2 linked regions of the Homo sapiens genome follow. The main gene of each other region encodes a partner of the protein of the gene in region 2 in a complex. Each region holds a gene or a part of one and is shown on either strand. Other genes may lie near its edges.

Region 1 (10,459 bases), on a different chromosome or scaffold from region 2:
GGCATGTTGAATTCCCTGTACTCATGGGTTGTCCTGGTGGATATGACCTGCAGGCATCTTGATATACATACATGTCTGGTGCTCAGGACAGAAGTCCAGGCTAGAGATAGACTTGGGAGTCTTCGATCCATGGACAGCCGAAGAACTTCACTTATTTGTGCTATGGGCTTGGGCAAACTACTTTATCTCACATCTTCTCTAAGCTATTGTTCCTTCAGCTGTGAAAGTAGGTAAAACTGCATACAGGACTTTATACATAGATTAATATTAAAGACCATGAAAATCTCTTTATAAAATGAAAAGTGCTATAAAAAGTTAACTGCATTATTTTATATACTACACGCAGGCCAAAAAGTAGGGGCAGGCCACTGGCTACTGAGAACTGTTCAGAAACAGTATCTTCTCCTTACAAAATCACTGGGCACCTACAGTTGAAATAATTTTGCAAAACTGGTCACCATATTTCAAAATAAATATAATGGAGCTGGACAAATCACAGGGAAGGATAGCTACAACTGAAGGCTATGAAGGATTTCTGTTTTGATTAGGGAGTGAAGATGTTAAAGAGCTTATTTTCATGGCAGAATTTTCAATTAAAAACTAAGACATTCACTAAAAGTAAGGATAAAGAAAACAAAGACTTCTTTACTAAATGCTGGATACTTAAAATTATAAGAATGGTGAACATTAGCTTAGTACTAGAGAGAATTAAGTGTGTACTACTCCCAAGAGAAAAAACTAGTTCAAAAATCTGAATGAACTCAAGGAAAATTTATATGACAAATTTTGAAAATAACGATATAATGAGCATACATGTGTAACCTGTTCAAGTCAGATGGCATTTGCCCACAAGTGATCACTTGAAGTCCAGGTAAGAATGAGAGGCTGGAATGACCGTGGATCCAATCTTAATGCCAATATAATGTTCATATTTTATATTATATACCTCTCATATTATTTATTTAGCCTTAATAGCAATTTCCTTAATCCAAGACTACATGTGAATTATGTAATTTATTGAGGCTTGAAAAATAAGCATGAAATAATCTAACGGTATCTGAAACTTTAGTGCCCTTTTCTCTCTCCAAAACGAGTATTTACTTTTCCCCCAGCCCAATGGTATAAGCTTATTTTAAAAAACTAAAACACAACAAAGGATGAGGGAGTAATTTTGTTTCTAGATGAAATCATACTCAACACAAGGTGCTGTGACCCAGCTTCACTTACATAATGGACATTTTTGAACATCAGTATATCTAAATCTACCTAATATTTCCAACAACTATGTAATTTGTATATATGGACATACCATAATTTATTCACCCATTCTCTATTGGTAGACATGAAGATGATTTCCATTTTTTTAAAATCATAAACAACACTGCAGTAAACATTCTTATATATACATCTTAAACATTTATCCAATTAAATCCTTGGATAAATTTCAAGAAGTTGAATTACCTGGTCAAAGGACATGTAGTTTACATTTTGAAACATATTTCCAGACTGACCTCCATAAAGTCTGAGGGTCTATACTCCCACTACAGTGCAAGGCGCACACTTCTCCATACCCTTCCTAGCAGTTATCATTTTAACCTTAGCCAATATGAAAGTACAGAAATGTTATTTATTGTTTGAACTTGCATCACATTCATGAAGTAAGTGTCTTTTTATATGTTCATGTTATTTATTTTATTTCTTTTTTGGTAGACAAGCTATTTATATCTTTAGTACCCCCCATCCCTTTTTTTCTATTTGTGTGTTTGCTTTTCTCTAATTCATATATAAGATAGCTTCCTGTTACTTGAACCAAATGGTTTTTCTAGGTTTTCATTTGTCTTCTATCTTTGTTAAAGAAAACTTAATTTTTATGCAGCCAGATAGCTCAGTTTTTTCCCAAATGTTTGCCTTAATGGTTTAAGGATACTCTGATGATGAGAAAGGAGTCTCACTTTTCTCAAGGGTGAAAAATATTTATCCAAATTCCACAAATAAGGAAACCTAAAGTTAAATCACTCAATCTATGTTACTTAGATAACACTGCAAGATCCATAATTTAAGAATGACATTATCATTTTTATTTCACAAGTGTATAGTTTAGCATTAAAATTTACACAAGGAGAAACAGGGTAGAACCAGGGTTCTCACTGCGGGAGAAAGAAGGTGAAAAATAGTTAACTCTTGATTTCTTAGTAACATGCATTTCTAAGCTCTGTGCCTTGAAAACGGTCTAGAAGCAGTGACACTGCTGAGGCGGGCAGATCACGAGGTCAGGAGTTCGAGACTAGCCTGGCCAACATGGTGAAACCCCGTCTCTACTAAAAATACAAAAAGTAATTGGGTGTGGTGGTGCATGCCTGTAATACCAGCTACCCAGGAGGCTGAGGCAGGAGAATGGCTGGAACCCAGGAGGTGGAGGCTGCAGTGAGCCAAGATCGCGCCACTGCACTCCAGCCTGGGCAACAGAGCGAGACTCCATCTCAAAAACAAAAAAAAAAATTAATAGAAATAGTGAAAATAAAATATTTGAAAGGATTAAGGAGGGACACACTACCTACCTTACTTTTTTCAATGTTTTATTTTGAAAAAATTTCAAACCTATAGAAAAGTAGTAAAAAATAGTACAGCGAATAGCCTCAGCCTCCCAAAGTGCTAAGATTACAGGCATGAGCCACCATATCTGGCTTATTTCTACTAATTTCTATATTAAGATCCCAATAATTTAACTGTTCCATAACCTACACATTATGAAATAATAATGGTTAAGAGACGCCAGAAATGTAATGCTCTTAAGTATAAAGCCTCTAAATTAAGTCATATATAATTAGCATGATTGCCTAGAAACACTGCTCTTCAAAATAAAGTGGGCCATCCATATCCATGGGTACTGCATCTACAGATTCAACCAATTATGGATAAAAGATATTCTGAGGAAAAAAATCCATGAAGTTCCGAAAAGTAAAACTTGAATTTGCCATGTACTGAGTACTACGTTGAACCCACATGAATGAACTGATGTGCAGGCATTGTAATAGGTATTACAAGAAATCTAGAGATACCTAAAACTAATAAGCTCCATGAAGGCAGGAATCTGGTCTGTTTTGCGCCTCAGTGTATCTCTAGCCCACAGGAAGACTGCATGGTACAAAGTGGGCAGTGAAGAACATTTCTAGGATTAAGGAATTAGTTGTATTGTTAAAACCAGAATCTTAGGAGATTCCAAACCATAAAATCATTTTTTCCTTTCACTTAATTCCATTACCAACTTCCATTTGTATGTTTTTAAATCTTTGGATTTATAAAAACCCAAGGTAGAAAAAAACCATGACCAGTAAAGTTTTATATTCAGGTCTTAATAAATACTTATTCTTAATTTGACCTAAATACAGTACCTGAGTTTTCTGTTTATTCTAAAAATCAGGTGCTCACAACTATTCTACAGTCCTATAAAACTCTACAAAATGTGCACTTTCACAATTTGCCACTTCTGAATAGGACCCTCCTATCATCCCCTGTAACACACCACCAAGCCTTGGACTCCATTAAGCAGCTCCTGAGTGCATGCAAAGAAGCTCAGAGAGCCACACTGCTGCCTTTTAGTCCCTTCAACAAAGTAAGCTCAGTAAGTGTTAACAACTGAACCACCCTATTTTCTTATATACTGCCTCGTTTCCTTTCTTAGTTCACTATACTCACCTACTTAGTTAGGCCTAACTAATACAGACAGTAATCTTTATATTAATATTAGCAGAGAGCAAAAATGATACGAAATCAATCATATAAGACTTTTAAATAAAACGAATATATTTATAAATTGATGCCACCCATAATTTAAACAGCGAAACTACACAAACTTAGGATTTCACTGTTACTTGTTATAAAGCAAATAATTTGACCAGTAGAGGGCACTCACAAAAGTGGGGAGAGCTTCACAGCCTTGAAGAGAAATGATTTATAAAATTGCTGTGTGTCTCTGATTTTAAAAACAGAATGTTTTAATAGAAGACTGGAGTAAGCTAACATATCATTAACGTACAAAAGTTAAAGTTTAAATCTTTGTTATACTTGAAAATCTAACATAAACCTTATGTCAGGGACATGAATTTGACAATTTAAAGGATGTTTAAAGCTACAGGTTAACATATCAAGGTTTGGATCTTAACACCATTGAGGTTTGGGGTCAGATAACCCTGTTGTGGGGGCTTTCCCGTGCACTGCAGGAAGTTTAATATTAGGTTGGTGCAAAGGTAACTGCAGCTTTGCCATTTAAAGTAATAGCATCTACTCAATAGATGCCAGTAGCAGTACTCTCTCCCCAAGTTGTGGCAACCAAAAACATCTCCAGATGTTGCCAAATGTCCCCTGGAGGGCAGTCACCCAACCATCCCTCATTGATTACTAAAGATATATGTATAAACTCAGAAGAATAGCAGCTTACAAATTACATAAGGCTTTTCTTATACCAGTCTTCAGTATCAGTTTAATTTTACAAATTTTCTCTCTATAATCTACATACTTCATTCGTAGGTAAAATGAATTCTACAATGAACATGGAAAAATAAAAATAAAATAAAAATTAAAATAAACCTTGGTAAATAAATACTCTACAGCTCAGAACACTAAAGATGAAACAAACCAATCCAATGATTAATCTGGTCTTCCTTACTGAATAGGAAACTGTTCCATCAAAGAGGGGCATAATACTTGAACTGAATTATAAGTGCCACAATAAAAGCATGCTGATGTCAAACAATTAGAGCCTGGGAAAAAATACTTCCTGCTATATTTATTCTTACTAGCATATTATATACAGTAGATACTTAATATATATTTGGTAAGTGATCAACTAATCATTCTGATCTCTGTAACTACCTACATTTTTTTAAAACGAGACTTTTCCTCTTCCACCAAATTTTACCTTAGAAAAAAAACTTCAGGGTTTTGATAATAAATGATCTCTGAACTATAAAGGTATATATTTCTAGCCAAGTATTGTGTTTGGGGGCTATTTTGAGTTTTCAATAATCTTGCCCTAATAACGAGGTATTTCATTATCTCTTTAGTGGGCTTCATAAAAGATAACAATATATACTTCACAATACAAGTAAAGGTGATTATGTGCACAGCCTCGAATACAAACATACTCCATCTATGTGTCATACCTGAATGATTTTACATCATACCTCTGCCACTAAGTTGCCATTAGATAGCAGGCTAAGTTCAAATTTTGGTATACTTACAAATCTGAATTAGTCTCCATTAGTAAATATTTTCTTAATTTGAAAGATAGCTAATTTTCAGTTTTAAAAAGTTATACAAGAGTACAGTGCAAATTCTACTTAACTTGGTCTCAGAGAATTTAAATTGAAATCCTACCACTTATTAGCTACGTATCCTTAGATGAGTTACAACCTCTCAGAGACATTATTGAAAGAAACAATAGCCACCCTCCTTACTATCTCTTAGTGTAAATTTTGAAAAATCTAAATCACCAAAAAATACAGTATTACTTGATTTAAATTTTTAAAAAATTTATTTCCATTTTAAATGTAGAAAAACTGCTAATAATTCCAAAATGTGCAGTCATATCCTTTCTAATTTTCTCTCTGACCCACACGGATTGGTAAATACCAATCAAAACCTGCAATGGCAGTGAAATCCCCATATCCTCCTAAATTTTTAACTTTTTACAATAACATGGAGTCAGCATTTCCATTTAACCAACTATTTAACTACTAAGTTCTCCTGCCTTTCTTACAGTTTAACTACACCAAGAACTTAATGTAATGTGTCAGTTCCCTCAGAGACTCACTGTAACTTGGGAGATAAGAGATAATCTCAGATACCTTTTCCCAGGTGACTAAACTACGTCAGGGACCGTCAGTTTCAAAGTTCACAGGTAACCAATGCTTCCCAGAGTCAAGTCTTCTGGTTTGGCAGAAATCATAAGCAGAGTTATAGGTTTAAGTTTATAAACTTTTTCAGCCTTCCGCCCAAATAAAGGCTTAACTGTTAGCTTTATTTCTTCAACATTTATATTGCATTTTAACAATCATTAGCAAAAGGTTTCCTAACCCACTTTATCACATTCATGACGTCATGCTGTATATACTCATATAGCACTCATGACCTCTGATTGGAAACAAAGTGTAATGGAATTTCTCAGATTTTCAGGGAAGACAGACAGCATTTCCAGTAAAATCACCTTCCAAAATCCCAGGAAAACTTTCAGGCATAAAGTGAATTATATTAAAACTTCCTTTTACATCTGATTTAAATAGTAGAGTCTGCCAAGTAACCCTGAATTTGCAATACAGATTAAAATGGGTGCACTATTCAAACCTCTTCAAAGAAACAAAACTATAGTACACATTGAATTAACTTGTCAAAAGTAAATATACAGAGACTATTGCATAGGCAGTCTACTTCAATTAGACTGTTCCCCTTTACTGCTGTAAATTCTTAAAATTGGAAGCCAAATAAAGTTGTTTCTATGTTTAAATCAAATCTTTGCAAATAGGCATTATTTCTCCACTTTTTTATAGTACCAAAAATATGTGACGTTTCCTTATGATTAGTTATCTAATCAATTCTCCAGGTTCTAAACTGCATAAATATCTTCCCAAGGCCACCCAATGCCCTCAGAACTTGCCTCAGCGCAAAGTGTCTCTTCAAGACACTACACAGTACAGTACGTTAATAAGGCACTTTGACCTGTTCTAGATTTCACAGCTTGGAACTTGAAGAAAGTTCTTAGAAATTTTTCAGAACTGATTTTTTTAAATTAGTACACTAGATGTAGAATAAATGCTAAAGTATTAGGACTGCTTAACCCAGGGTAAAGAAGCCTAAGAAACAATCTAACAATATAGGGCTATTTCAAAGACAAGGCGATATGCTTATTTTCCATCTCCACTGATGTTAAATTTAACATGAAGATCCAAATTACATGTAAAATATGCTAATAAATATGTTCTGAAAATGAGTTAACAAGGACAGTTGGGGAATGTCCCCTCCTGGAGGTCTTTGAGATTAAATAAATCCTCATCTGCTTGGGATGGAAGTTCTACTCCATGACCTTCAAGGTGTCTTACAGGTCTTTACTTATCATTCTGCTGCTGGTCTTTACTTTGGTAAATTTTCATTAAACTAAAAAAATCTGAAAATAATCCTCAAAAACATGATAACAATTTAAATTTACTCAAGGAATTTTTTTTTAAATCCTAGTATTTCCTTGAGTAAATTTAAAAATGACAACAAAGCAAAGGTAAAGTTGGTAATAGTACCTTTATATAAACCACACCTTAGGCAAATAATTCATTTTGTAAAATTTATCCGGTAGTTGTAGGTTCTCTAATGTTGAGAAGAAGATAGGAAAATACTGCTGATGAAGTTTAAAAAAATCAACCATCAAACAATTATATTTCACTAGTACAATTAAATCTAACCTTTACATATGATGTCACAATACCAAGAAACCCATAAAAATAAAAGTTACAATAAAAAGATTGTCTTTTAGGTCCAGATAGGATACAAATTTCTACCCTCTCACGAAACTCTGAAATACACTTCCAATCAAAATGCACAGAGAGTGAACATCATGGACCCTGACATACTCCCAAGGAAAGTAAAGTTCCCATATTAATGGTTACATATAACTTGAAACCCAAGGTACATTTCAGATAACTTAACTTTCAGCATAATTATCTTGTAATAAGTACTCATGAAAATGGTCAGAGAAACCTTTATCTGTATCAAAGAATGGTCCTGCACCAGTAATATGCATATTAAAACAAGATTTACCTCTATTGTTGGATCATATTCGTCCACAAAATGATTCTGAATTAGCTGTATCGTCAAGGCACTCTTGCCTACGCCACCAGCTCCAACTACCACAAGTTTATATTCAGTCATTTTCAGCAGGCCTTATAATAAAAATAATGAAAATGTGACTATATTAGAACATGTCACACATAAGGTTAATACACTATCAAATACTCCACCAGTACCTTTTAATACAAACTCACCTTTATATGAAAAATTATTTCAAAATACCTTACAAAATTCAATCATGAAAATTCCAGTTGACTGCAGACGTGTATCGTAATGAACTGTACTTCATTTACAAACTCCTCCATCGACGCTTAAGAAAAATGCATAAATGCTACATAGACAGTTCTTTTATCTTAAAATCAAGTTGTTCTATCTAAATAGCCAGACTGCTGTTCTGCGGCGGCTAAAGGCTCTCAAAGGATCATATCATGACTTCACTCATGTAGAGACTTCACAGTGCTCTACACCCTGTAGCACACCCTCACAAAAGTTGCTGACAGCTATCTCCACTCTTATTGTTACAGTTTTCCTAGTGGACCCCCACCTCTAAGTGTTAGAAGTCAATATGCAACAGCTACAGAAAAACTTTTAAAGCATCATGGCAGTAGTTCTCTTGGATAAATATTAACAGTAAGAATCAGATGAGAGTTGAGAGAATGAGTGTCAAATAAAGCTGGATTGTGTCATGGGGAAATAAAAATTTAAACACTGAGGCAAAGAAGAACAATATTTGACGACATTTTAATGTGTGAAATATCTCTGGGGAAAATAGGAGTCCGAGGTTGCAATGAGCCGAGATGGCGCCACTGCACTCCAGCCTGGCGATAGAGCAAGACTCCGTCTCAAAAAAAAAAAAAAAAAAAAAAATCTCTGGGGAAAATAAAGCTAAAAACCAAGAGAACTCCGAATTAACTGTTCAGTACAATACATAATCCTGTATCACCGCTGCACAAAAAAAGATAAAGATTAGAAAGCCGGGTGCGGCGGCTCATGCCTGTAATCCCAGCACTTTCAGAGGCCAAGGCGGGTGGATCACCTGAGGCCAGGAGTTCAAGACCAGCCTGGCCAATATGGTGAAACCCTCTCTCTACTAAAAATACAAAAATTAATCAGGCGTGGTGGCGCTCTCCTGTAGTCCTAGCTACTGGGGAGGCTGAGGAAGGAGAATCACTTGAACCCGGGAGGCAGAGGTTGCAGTGAGCCCAGATCACGCCACTGCACTCCAGATTGGGTGACGGAGTAAGACTCCATCTCAAAACAAACAAACAAACAAAAAGATTAGAGATAAACACTGTTTTTAGTAAGAAAACAGCTGTTAAGAGATGCAAGTGAGCCGGGCACGGTGGCTCACGCCTATAATCCTAGCACTTTGGGAGGCCGAGGAGGGTGGATCACGAGGTCAGGAGATCAAGACCATCCTGGCTAACCCGGTGAAACCCCGTCTCTACTAAAAATATAAAAAAATTAGCCGGGCGTGGTGGCGGGCGCCTGTAGTCCCAGCTACTTGGGAGGCTGAGGCAGAAGAATGGCGTGAACCCAGGAGGCGGAGCTTGCAGTGAGCCGAGATCACGCCACTGCACTCCAGCCTGGGCGACAGAGCCACTCCGTCTCAAAAAAAAAAAAAGATGCAAGTGAATATATCTCAGTAATCAGTAATCCATGTGACTGTTACTCTTTGCTTTTCATACACTGTCTCCCAAGAGGTGCATGAATATTGACAGATTGTATAACAAACACCATACAGAAAATAAAACATATTTTTTAGTTAGTTGTTTCAAATTTTTTGAAATAATATGAATGTTTAATTTCACCTCCTTTCCCTCATGTAACACATAATTATAAATAAGGAGAGAAATGCAGAAAAAAATGGGAGTAAATGCACAACTATTTATTATAGGATGAGTAGCTCCAAATTAATGAATGTGCATATATTGTAGATAAACACTAAATATACACAGCATCATAATTGACTGAAGACCCAAAATAATAATTTGGTTTCCCAAATGATAACATACTAACCTTACTCCTAAGCCCTGCCGCAAAAAGCACCACAGGCTAGAAAAATTGTATCACACACGGTCACGGCATAGTTCCCCGCCTTACTCTGCTCTACCTAGACTTATTGGCTGCTTGTCTAGGGTGAAGTTAACAACCACTACAAACATGTATCTTATCCCGTTTGCCTCCACGCTTTATTTCAAATGTAGGCCAAAGCAATTAGGAATAGATGAGGAGAATTACACTAAAATGTATCTTCTAGCTCTCTGCCTACCCCAACCTCCCCCCAACCAGTTTGCATAGCCTAAAACAGTTCTCAAAATGTGGTCTAGGAACCCCTCAGGTTACTAAGACTTTTCTGGTGTGCAAGAGGTCAAAACTGTTTTCATAATAACATTAAGATGTCCTTTACCCTTTTAACTCCCATTCTTTCACAAGTTTTCCAGATGTGTGATCATAATAGATTGAATGCAGATGCAGATATAAGAATCCATATCTTCTATTAAGCCACATCATTAAAGAGATTTACTGAAGTGTGAAACAATACCACTTTTCTAAGTTTTGGTTTTGTTTTGGAAAATAGTTATTTTTCATAAAATATTTTATTCATGTTACCAAGTAATGGGCT
Region 2 (11,399 bases):
AACATATATAAAAACTGTTCATAAACCAGTTGTCTCTCCAGACATGCCCTGCCACTTCCCATCATGTTCTAATTTAGTCTTTTCTGATTATGTCATTTACTTTTTTTTTTTTTTTTTGAGACAGAGTTTTGCTCTTGTTGCCCAGGTTGGAGTGCAGTGGTGCAATCTCGCCCCACTGCAACCTCCGTCTTCCGGTTTCAAGCTATTCTCCTGCCTCAGCCTCCCGAGTAGCTGGGATTACAGGTGCCCACCACCACGCCAGGCTAATTTTTGTATTTTTTAGTAGAGATGGGGTTTCACCACGTTGGCCAGGCTGGTCTTGAATTCCTGACCTCGTGATCCGCCCACCTTGCTCTCCCAAAGTGCTGGATTACAGGCGTGAGCCACTGCGCCCGGCCCTGTCATTTACCTTTTTAGCCTGAGTGTCAAGGGCAATACCTGGTCTATAGTAGGCATGATATATTTGTGCAATAGATAAGATAGGACTTAGACTCATAGATGCGGTGAAACAGATACAGTGGGACATTCCAGCCATATTCAGGAAAAGTAGCAGTCCGGACTGGCTAAAGCAAAAAGGAGATAAAAGGTTATGGTAGACAATCCAGTCAGAAAAGCAGGATGAAGCCAAATATCAATTGCTGTTAATTCTATGCTAAAAAGTGCACTTTAGCATAGGTTGAACTCAAAAGACATCAACAATTCTGAGTGTGACATGTTCAGAAGTGTCCTATAACTGGTGAGATTTGAAAAACAGAAGGTGAGGTGGGGGCCAGTGAACCCCATTAAGAAGTTATCACAGTAGTCTGACAAAGGAGACTCAATTAGAGAAGTCGGAGGAGGAATAGACTAGAAGAACATGTCAAAGGGAAATGAACATACAGGCTCTACCTGAGTGTGCACAGTAATACAAAGAAGCCAGAGATGACCCCAACATTTTAAACCAGTCAAATGTAACAATAAAGCCATTAATCGAGAAGAAAAACTGAAATGACAGGTGGAGGAGAGAAGTGATAGTTTTAGTTTGTATATCCCCTCACCTATTTATTCAAATTGAGTGCCTACCAGATGTCAAGCACTATAAGTATGGGGAATAAAATGTGGGTAAGATATCATCCCTGTTCTCAAGGAGCATCCAATCTAGTTATAGGCAAGTAAATAGGAACTTAAAATTCACAGAGCTAGGACAGGGTGCAAAAAGAAAACAAAGGAGTAATATCCAACTCAGCCCTGATGATTTGACAGTTCAGGTTGAGTGAGTCTAGAAGGATGAGTAGTGTTGGACCAGGCAAAGAAGGATGAAGGGACTAGCATATCCAAAGAGCCTCAGGTAAGAGTAAGAGAACACAAGTCGGATGTATCTACGAATAATTCAATAACAAATCAAAGGAAGAAATCAAGATATGGAGATATCCACATGAAATGTCCAGCAGGCAAGTAAAAACGTAGGTTTTGAGCTACCAACAGCATATCCAGATATGAAACATACTGTATTTTCAATCTTGTTTAGAATCATTGTTAGTGGCTATTTAAATAAGAATTGGAAGAACCTTACATATCAGCTAGATTATGTACACTTCCACCTCCTCCTATCACTTCTACTGCAAAAGTATCTCTAACTTAAAGTCAAAAGCTGTTTTATGTAAATATGCAAAAAGGACAAGTGGGGGCTGTGGTAAGGTGGAGATACATGACCTGTCTAAAGAAGGGAGCCATTTACTCAACTCCAGCAGTTTAGTGCCTCGCTTGAATACAGGCCCTAAATGACAAGACCTTCCTATTCTTCAAGAAAAGCCGAAAATTCAGGTTTTATGTAATATCTCCCATTTTCAAATATTAGCAACTAATTACATTTAAAAATAAAACAACACTATGCCAGCCAAACAAAATGCTTTTGTGGACAGATTTCAGCAAGGGCCACCAGTGTGGCAGAATTAAACAACGTCTGTCAACTCCTACAATATTCTTTCCACTGCTTCAAAGGATCCTCAGCTGATACCTTGGTGATTCCCCTGGGAAAGGAGCTGCTTTTGCCTCTAAGCAAAATGGCCCCTATTTGGCAATGCTTTATGAGTTCCTTTACACGTTTTTAAACAATTTCCGTGTCTCCCCTTACTCTATCCGGACACCAGCTTCTAGCATCACAGAGACCTCCTACACCCCTTCCATTACAAGCTAAGAAGTCAAACTTGCAAGTAAAGCAAAAGTAAGGAGTGAGAGCCTGAAGGGATTTCTAAGGAGTAAAGTATGTAAGATATATGGCATCTTTTCTTCTGTTTTTTAAAAAAAATTACATAGATGTTTGTGACTAGTCAGACACTTGAAGGGGAAAATGTCCGTAATTTAAGCCAGAAATATATGAGCAAATTCTCCTGAAAAACCAAATAGTTTCCACTGTAAGACAGCAAGAGGGACCGGAGGAGAACAGGGCAAAAGGGAAAGTAAAAGTTACTGGCCTTTGAGAAATATCAGACACCTTTTAATGTTTAGCATAAAAGGTAAAACATAATCTCCATTCTTAGTAGAAGCAGTTAGCATGAAACATTCTTTGAGCAGCAAGAAACTGGGATTTAGAAACACTATTAGAAGAGTAAAGCAATCTTTACAGAAAAGGTAAATGAAGAAAAGAAAACAAAAATAGTCTGGTTGTCACACTGCTGCTTTAGAAGCTTTAAAAACGTAAGAACACTTCCTAATTATACTAAAACATTTAAAAGCACAGATCGGGGGTATGTAACTTCAGGTAACAATGTAGCAAACTTAAACATACAAAGGCTAAAAATTCTTAACAAGCCAAATGACAGCACCAAGAATCTCGAACGCTGCAAAAACAAAACAAAACCCCCCTGAAATTGGTAGCATGTGCACCAGCCCCTGTTAATCGGAGGAGCGGGGGAAACCAGGAGAATGAGGAGTGAATACTGACGGCGAGCAGAGCAGGCCACGTTCCTACTGGCAGGCGAGCTCGCAATTCCTTTGAGCAAGCCTTACGGCCAGGGCATTCTCAAGCCACTAAAACCAGCGTACTGGACACCTAAAACGGTAGGCTGACAGCAGCTCCGGGCTAAGACCAAGAAGACGGAAAAGTGGCCTGCTTTGACCTCCGCTGAAAACTGAGGCTCCTCCAACTGTTGTTGTCCTGGAATCAAAGGGCAAAGCATTCACCTCTCAGGGGTTGGATTATCCGGATAAACTCCCCCCGGCTCCCTGCGGCATTCCCACACACCCGGTGGATGTCAACACCGAGAGCCAGCCGTATGAGGGGGGCCTCTCCGTGTGCGCCGTCCTTTTGGAGACGCGGCGAGACCGGGAAGAAAGACGGCCCTGCGCGCGCCCCGCCTCCCCAGCCCTTCCCCAGCGCCCGCGCTGGGGGGCTGCGGCCGGGAAGCGGGGTCCCGCGTGCTCCTCACCTTTTTCAGCGCAGGCACCAGTAGTCCCCGCCACTTGGGCGCGTTCTCTTCGCTGAAAAACTCGTAGGGCAGCTGCTGCGCCTGCATGGTGCCCCCGGGGCGCCTCTGGGCGGGGAGAGGGGCGGCGGCGGCCGGGCCAGGGAGCCGCGAGAGGGCGAGCTCGCAGCGCGGAACAGGGCCGCGGCCCCACCGGACGGCCCGGCCCCCTCCGGGCGCCGCGCAGCCGGGCTAGCCCTGGCGAGGGGGCTGGGGGGCGAGGCCCGCGCCTGGCCACCCACCCGACACAGGTACCAGCCGTGGAGAACGGACGCGGCCCGGAGGCGGCGGCATCCCGCACCACCGCCCCGGGGCCAGGCCCCCCGCCCCTCCCCGGCCCGCCGGCGCCGCCCCGGGCTGCCCTCTGCCGCGGCCGCCGCCCGCCCGCCGGGGCTGCACTCCCGGGCCCGGTCTGGCCCCGCGGCGGAGCTGGCGGCTGGGGGAGGACGTGTGGAGGGACGCTCCGGCCGCGGCGCCCGCTCCGCGTAGTTGGGACTCCGAAACGCAAGAGCCCCGGGCGGGGCGGAGCTGGGGCGGAGGTCTCGCGGGGAAGGGGAAGGACCGGAGGTCGTTGTTGGGGAATCTGGCTGCCCTGAGGTGCCGCCGCGGCCGCCGCCGCCACCGCCGCCGCCGGTGTAGCGCTGGAGCTTCCTACTAGCGAACTGAACCTGCTCGCTACTGAGCATGCGCTGCCGTGCTGGGCTGGTTCGCTCCGGGTTTTCCGGCTCCCGGTGAAGGAGGAGGAAAGCTCGAGAGAGAAAGAGAGAGAGAGACAGGGAGGGCGCCCGGCCGGGCTGTGGCTGCGCTCCTGGGGGCTGCAGGGGAGGGGCGAAGGGGCCCGAGAAGTCGCACCCTGGCAAAGTGGGGCCTGCAAGGGTGGGTGATGACTAGGGTAAAGAGGCTCCCCATTGTGTGGCCTGGCCGTGAGGGCTCCCACCCTTCTCGGAGTCCCTGGGCCCTTCGTTTCGGAAAGGGGTGTGTGTACTTTGTTCCTGAACACGAAGATAAGGACTGCCCAGAGCACGCAATGTATAGTAAACAGACTGGACAAAAGACAGGTGCTCTGTCACGAAACCTACTGCTCAGTATCTGCTGAGTAGTAGAAGTGATTGCGGTGTTTCTAAGTGGTCTTTCCACAAAATAATAAAATGTGTACGTGTAGTATTGATTTTGTGTGAATGTTTTAGATTCCCTCTGTTCATCTTTTAAACCCACTCCAGAAATGAACTCCAGTAAGCACTTTCCTCCAGTGGATATCGAGACCTCTTTTACAGCTCCTAGAGCACTGCACTTATGCCCCTCTCAGGGCGTTCAGTCTATTGTGTTTTGTTATCTTTTGCGGTTCTTTCGACTAGATAATAAACTGGAAGGCAGATCTTTTTCACCAGGGCCTCTACACAGTGTAGAACAGGCACTCAGTCAATGTTAGTGGAATGCTAAAGGAGCAGTATTTATAAACTGTCCCTCCAGGCCACTGTTTGTTTATAATAGGGGCACTTTGTGGCAGACACCTTATGATTTATCATTAATTATCATTTTTTTGAGTATCATCTCATTTAATCCCCATAGCAACCCTATTATTTTCATTTCACCGATAAGAAGGCAGTTTAGAGGAACTAGCCTGGGTTAAAGCTGACATTGTGTCCTGCTATTCCTGAGAACAGTAACCAGGATCACATAAACGAGAAAGGTTCAGTGGTTCTTAATCTTTACAGGACCTCTTTGAAAATCTGGAAAAACAACTCTTAGGTTATTTCCTTTAAAAATACACAGGCCGGCCAGGCGAGGTGGCTCATGCCTGTAATCCCAGCACTTTAGGAGGCCGAGGCGGATGGATCACCTGAGGTCAGGAGTTCCAGACTAGCCTGGCCAACACTGTGAAAACCTGTCTCCATAAGAAATACAAAAATTAGCCGAGCATGGTGGTGGGCGCCTGTAATCCCAGCTACTTGGGAGGCTGAGGCAGGAGAATCGCTTGAACCCAGGAGGCAGAGGTTGCAGTGAGCCGGGATCATGCCACTGCACTCCAGCCTGGGCAACAAAACCAAAACTCCGTTTCAATTCAAAAAAAAATATACACACACACACACACACACACACACATACACACAGACCGGCCGGGCGCAGTGGCTCACGCCTGTAATCCCAGCACTTTGGGAGGCCGAGGTGGGCGGACCATTTGAGTTCAGGAGTTTGAGACCAGGCTGGCGAGACCCATCTTTATTGTTTTATTGAAAAAATAAAAATATACATACTTGGTTTACATTTGAAAAACTCCCCACTTTCAAAGTGTGTGGAATGAAAGCTGGAATTATAGGCGCCTGCCACCACACCCAGGTAATTTTTGTATTTTTATTAGAGATGGGGTTTCACTGTATTGGCCAGGCTGGTCTCGAACTCCTGACCTCGTCATCCACCCGCCTCGGCCTCCCAAAATGCTGTGATTACAAGCCTGAGCCACCGCGCCCGGTCAGCCCTCTTCAAATATTTAAAGGGTTGTGATATGGGGGAAGAGATTGGTTTGTATGGTTCCAAATGAACCAACATCAAGCCTGTACCCCAAACTATTGCTTGGCTTCCCATTGCTCTTAGAATACATTTCAAACTTCTTACCGTACCCCACAAAGGCGTGCATCTGGCTCCTGCTCACATTCTCAATGTTTTCTCACCATTCACAACCTCGCCTCACCACACTCCAGTCACAGTAGCCTTCTGTCTATTCCTAGAAAACAACAACCTGCCTAAAGAACATTGTTCTTCTCTCAGCCTAGAACCCCTAACTGTTCCCTTGGCTGGTTATAAACATCACCACCTCCAAGAGGCCTTCTCCGATCACTCCAAGTAATTCTCACCTGTGTATTTCTACCTTATGTTCTTTTTATTTCCTGCTAGCACTAAATCAAATCAGTCCTCTATTTTTGGTTGTTGGTTTCCCTCCTGCCCCCAAATAAAATGTAAACTCCTAGAGAGAGAGAAACAATCTTTTTTTTTTTTTTTTCTTTTTCTGAGACAGAGTCTCATTTTGTTGCCCAGGCTAGAATGCAGGCGGAATCTTGGCTCACTACAACCTCCACTTCCCAGGTTCAAGTGATTTTCCTGCCTCAGCTTCCCGAGTAGCTGGGACTACAGGCGCACGCCACCAAGCCCGGCCAATTTTTGTATTTTTAGTAGAGGTGGGGTTTCGCTAGGTTGGCCAGGCTGGTCTCGAACTCCTGACCTCAAGCAATCCACCCACCTCCGCCTCCCAAAGTGCTGGGACTACAGGCGTGAGCCACCGCGCCCGGCCGAGATCAACAATCTTGTGCGTTTCGTTCTTCATTGGTTTTAATCGTATCCCCGGGGCCTACAATGCCTGCACACAGTAGGTAGCAATAAATATTGTCGAAGGAATAAAATGTGCATGCAGGAAAGTTCCAGGACTACATAATCAACGTTGTTTCCAGAAAACGGGCGATTTTCGGGGTGTGCAGGTAAAAAGCGTACATTCACTCACTCGGGCTAAGAGGTTGGGCATGTTGACCTCTAAGATCCCCTTCAACTCCGAATCTCTGATTTGACTGCAGAGGAAAACAAGCCCTAGAAACATGGGTTACAGCCTGGGCTAGGCTTGCTTAGCGGCCAGGGCAGGTTTTCACTAGCATGGCCGTTTGGGCCGTAGACAGGGCGGGTAACTGGAGAGAAACTGCAGTGAAGAGACTCAGTGCTTCGCAGCGGGGAGACCTACAGGGAGTGCCAGGGTCAGCCCCGCTAAGGTCAAGGAGCACTCCATCACCCCTGTACTGCTTGCCTGTATCTCTTGGGACAAAACAAAACACCTATGTCCATTCAGCAAGAGAAGACAACCGTGCGGACTCAGAAACGTGCAGACGGGTAGGCACGTGTAGACGTAAAAGTGTCGCCCACCAATCCCCCGCGCCAGCCCCTCAGCTTTTACCGCCGACGGGTGCGCCCTGGCGCAGGCGCAGAGGCTTCTTTTCGCTTCCCTCCTCAGCTCTAAGGAGCCTCACGCCACGGCGGACGTGACGCACGAGGCGCGTCCGGGCGGAATAGGCGAAGACCGAGAGGGGCGCGTCCAGGCGGGCTAGCCGAGTTCCGAGCGCGGCGCATCGGAGTAGGGCGGCGAGGACGGGGGCGGGGGTGGGCGTTTGGCCCTTCAGTGTGCCCCCTGCAGGTGCAAGTGCAACGCTCCGCGCCTTTGCCTGCCCTGCTGGCCAGGACGCGGCCACCTGGTTCTCTGCCTTGCTGCAGCCACAGTGATCCTTCTGACGCGAACTTCGGACCCAGCTACTTACTTTTCTGTTCAAGAACTCACACTGGCGTCCCAGGATAAATTCCAAAGTCCTTAACCTGGTATCCATGGCCTTGCACAATCGGACCGCTACTTATCTTTCTAGCTGTATCTCTCACTCAAAATGAACTGCTCTTGCCTCCTACAAACACATCACTTCTGTCTCTGTCTCCTGCTATTCAGAATGCCTGTCGCCTTTTTTCTCTAATGCCGCCCACCACAGCCCCACCCCAGCTCCCAGATACACGCTCGCGCTGGAACTCTTATCCACCCTGCGCGCCCTCAGCTCAAATGCTACCTTCTCTCTAAAGTTTTTTTTTTGTTTTCGGCTCTGATTCCTTCAGAGCCGAACAGGTAGAAGGAACAGCAGTTTCAGCCATCAGCAGTTAAGGTACTCTCTCCTCCAGAACATATTCACCCTCTGTCTTTCCCTCACCCTCTGTCTTTCCAATGCCTCCTTTCAATTCCTCTCCTCCAAAAAATGTATCTCCAGGAAACACACCAGAGAAAATAGTGACTGAGAAGAACACTAGATGCCCACTCTTTACTCACCTTTAGCTAATACTTTGAGTCCCCCGCCCTCTTCCTCCCTCTCTGTTTCCATCCCTGCCTTTGCAAAGATGGTACAGTTAGAAGAGATTATCAGAGGTTCTCCAAGACATATGGGACTATTCCTCGCACTTCTTTCTCGGGATTTCTGCAGGGAGCTTATAGGATATGCCCAAGTTTATCTTCTAAGAGAGAAGAGAAGACTTTTTGCAAAAGTCTCTTTCCAGTTGATTCAAGTTGTAATAGCTCCTCAAATTGATCACATCCAAATGCAATGTGACTTTAACGAAATTCCCAACAGGGATTGTCATGGAATTTGACAAACTCATTCTTAAAGGTATATGAAAGAGCAAAAGGCTAATTCTCCTGTAAAAGAAGAAGGTAGGGGAACTTGATTTACCAGATGTGAAAACTGATTACGTAGCTAAAGTAATTAAAACAATGGATATTAGCACAAGAACCTACAAACCAATTGATCAGTAGACAGCCAAATATATAGAAACCTGATACCGTAAGCATTGCAGATAAATAGGTAAAGGCTATACTGTTCAATAAATGAAATAATGTGCAATAGATAAATGCACATAGAAAAAATATACTTGTAACTCCCACCCTACGCAAAACAATCCCATTGGATTGAAGAAAGTGCAAAAAGCAAAATTATAAAACTCTGAGAAGGCTGGGCGCCAGTGGCTCACGCCTGTAATCCCAGCACTTTGGGAGGCCGAGGCCTGTAATCCCAGCACTTTGGGAGGCCGAGGCATGAGGGCAAGAGATCGAGACCATCCTGGCCCACATGGTGAAACCCCGTCTCTACCAAAAATACAAAAAAATTAGCCGGGCGTGGTGGCGCATGCGCCTGTAATCTCAGCTACTCGGCAGGCTGAGGCAGGAGAGTTGCTTGAACCCGGGAGGCGGAGTTTGCAATGAGTCGAGATCGCCCCACTGCAGTCCAGCCTGGATGACAGAGCAAGACTCCGTCTCAAAAAAAAAAAAAAATCTGAGAAGAAAATAAGGAATATCTTTTGTTGTTGTTGTTGTTGTTGTTGTTGTTGTTGTTGTTGTTGTTGAGATGGAGTCTGGCTCTGTCGCCCAGGCTGGAGTGCAGTGGCCTGATCTCAGCTCACTGCAACCTCCGCGTCCCAGGTTCAAGCGATTCTCCTGCCTCAGCCTCCCGAGTAGCTGGGACTACAGGCGCCCGCCACCACACCCAGCTAATTTTTTGTATTTTTAGTAGAGACGAGGTTTCACCGTGTTAGCCAGGATGGTCTCCATCTCCTGACCTCGTGATCCGCCCACCTCGGCATCCCAAAGTGTTGGGATTACAGACGTGAGCCACGGCGCCCGGCCACCTTTTGCATTCTTAACTCCAGCTCAGCATCTGCTTCCCAGGGGACCCAACTGATTTGTATATGTATATTGTTTTATAGGATAACAACTAATATTTTTAATTATGATGAATCCATATAAATACCTCAAATTTATTGATTATAGAAATATATCTGTAATTTTCCAAAGTGATTTATTTCTTTAAAAAATGTGGAGAAATTGATGTGGCTCTGAATCTATAAGGAAAGAGCTTGCAGTTTACCATCATTTTGGCTACTTGCTTTTTTTTTTGAGACAGAGTCTTGCTCTGTTGCCCAGGCTGGGGTGCAGTGGCACAATCTTGGCTCACCACAACCTCCGCCTCCTGGGTTCAAGCAATTCTCCTGCTTCAGCCCCCCGAGTAGCTGGGACTACAGGCGCACGCCACCATGCCCTGCTAATTTTTGTATTTTTAGTAGAGACAGGGTTTCACTATCTTGGCCAGGGTGGTCTCAAACTCCTGACCTCGTGATCTGCCCATCTTGGCCTCCCAAAGTGCTGGGATTACAGGCGTGAGCCACCGTGCCCAGCCTTGGCTATGTTTCTTAAACATAGTTTACTTATGATAAATATAGCTCAGGCATTCATATTTCATCAGACCTATTATTTTTTGACTGCTTCTGACAGAGACACCCTCTTTATTTTTTGACCAATAAATGACCAGCAACTGTAAAAAAGGGAAAGAGAAAGAAAAATACAGAAACAAAATAACACATCCCATCATCCCTTGTGCAACAGCTCATTTCCCAAAATCTTTGAAAATTACTTATACATGCATGATTTATGAAGGGAACGCCAGGAACACAGTTTCATAAGGATTGTATTAAAGGTTTCTCTCCCCGAGGCAGAAACATTGCTTTTTTAGAATTGTTTTCCTCTTAACCTCTTTTCTCTAAAACTGAAAAAGTTTGCCTTGATTTATAGGGTGTAGAGTTTTTTTTTCTTAAGTCTAACATAGAAGTTAAAACAAAAACAGAACCTTGGGATGGAAAATAGTAACGGTTAAAGAAGAATTGAATTTTAATTTGCTCAGCTGATCAGGCAAAAATGGGTTTTCTTATAACTGAGACTACAGTTCTCATGAAATATTTCATTATAATATTCCTTTTAGTTGTTTATTGATTTAGTTCGGAGAATGTAGAACAGAGGGAAAGAGGACTGAAATGAAACCTCTGTGCTGAATAAGTCTAGTGCATTTCTTATAAATTTATTCCTGATTCTTATCAAGTTTGTTGTCATTTGAAGTGGGATTTTTAATCTGCATTTCTACGTGATTATTGCTGGGTTAAAGAAAAAGTATTGTTTTTCATATAGTTGGCTTAAATCTGGCCTCTTTAATTTTTCATTAGTTCTAATAGTTTTCTTTCTAAAATAACATCTCTGATTCTCTACAATCATTTTATATGCAAACTATGATATTTTGCCTTCAGCCTTTTTATAAATGCTGGAGGATTAGGACTTAGGCTAAGGATTCAGCAGCAACTCCTGGACCCCATTTCTGCTCTGCCTTGACCAAAATTGGCAATGCAGCCATCACTGATGTTGAAAGCTGCTGAATCAGGAAGTCATCTGCCAAATTAATAAGCTGCTGCACAACAGCTGGCTGCAGACCATGCCACCTCTGCCACAGTCTACCCCAGCAAAGCAGATCCTCTTGATATCACCTCTGTCTACATATGACTCAGTTTCAAATCAGTCTCAACAAATGCTTCTGTTTCGTGGGATGCAAATCATATCTCAAGCCCTAGCCA

The links.
Region 1: the proteins of SOS1 (region 2) and KRAS are in contact, whole or in part, in a crystal structure (PDB 8BE4), measured with the Homo sapiens proteins. Residues at the interface, in NP_005624.2 of Homo sapiens: Lys602, Trp809, Thr810, Lys814, Leu822, Met824, Ile825, Arg826, Thr828, Thr829, Thr832, Leu833, Leu872, Val875, Ser876, Asn879, Ser880, Ser881, Pro882, Tyr884, Ser908, Asp910, His911, Tyr912, Lys913, Phe929, Phe930, Gly931, Ile932, Leu934; in NP_001356715.1 of Homo sapiens: Ser17, Ala18, Ile21, Gln25, Asp30, Glu31, Tyr32, Pro34, Thr35, Glu37, Tyr40, Asp54, Ile55, Leu56, Asp57, Thr58, Ala59, Gly60, Gln61, Glu63, Tyr64, Ser65, Ala66, Met67, Arg68, Asp69, Gln70, Tyr71, Arg73, His95.

Annotation. Positions count from the first base shown.
Region 1 is NC_000012.12:25,237,471-25,247,929, forward strand, and holds part of KRAS (GTPase KRas), read right to left. Parts: intron 7,926-10,459; 5' UTR 7,915-7,925; coding exon 7,804-7,914; intron 1-7,803. UniProt on the Homo sapiens protein: Ras proteins bind GDP/GTP and possess intrinsic GTPase activity. Plays an important role in the regulation of cell proliferation.
Region 2 is NC_000002.12:39,116,929-39,128,327, forward strand, and holds the start of SOS1 (son of sevenless homolog 1), read right to left. Parts: upstream 4,124-11,399; 5' UTR 3,495-4,123; coding exon 3,408-3,494; exon of another isoform or gene 3,163-3,407; intron 1-3,162.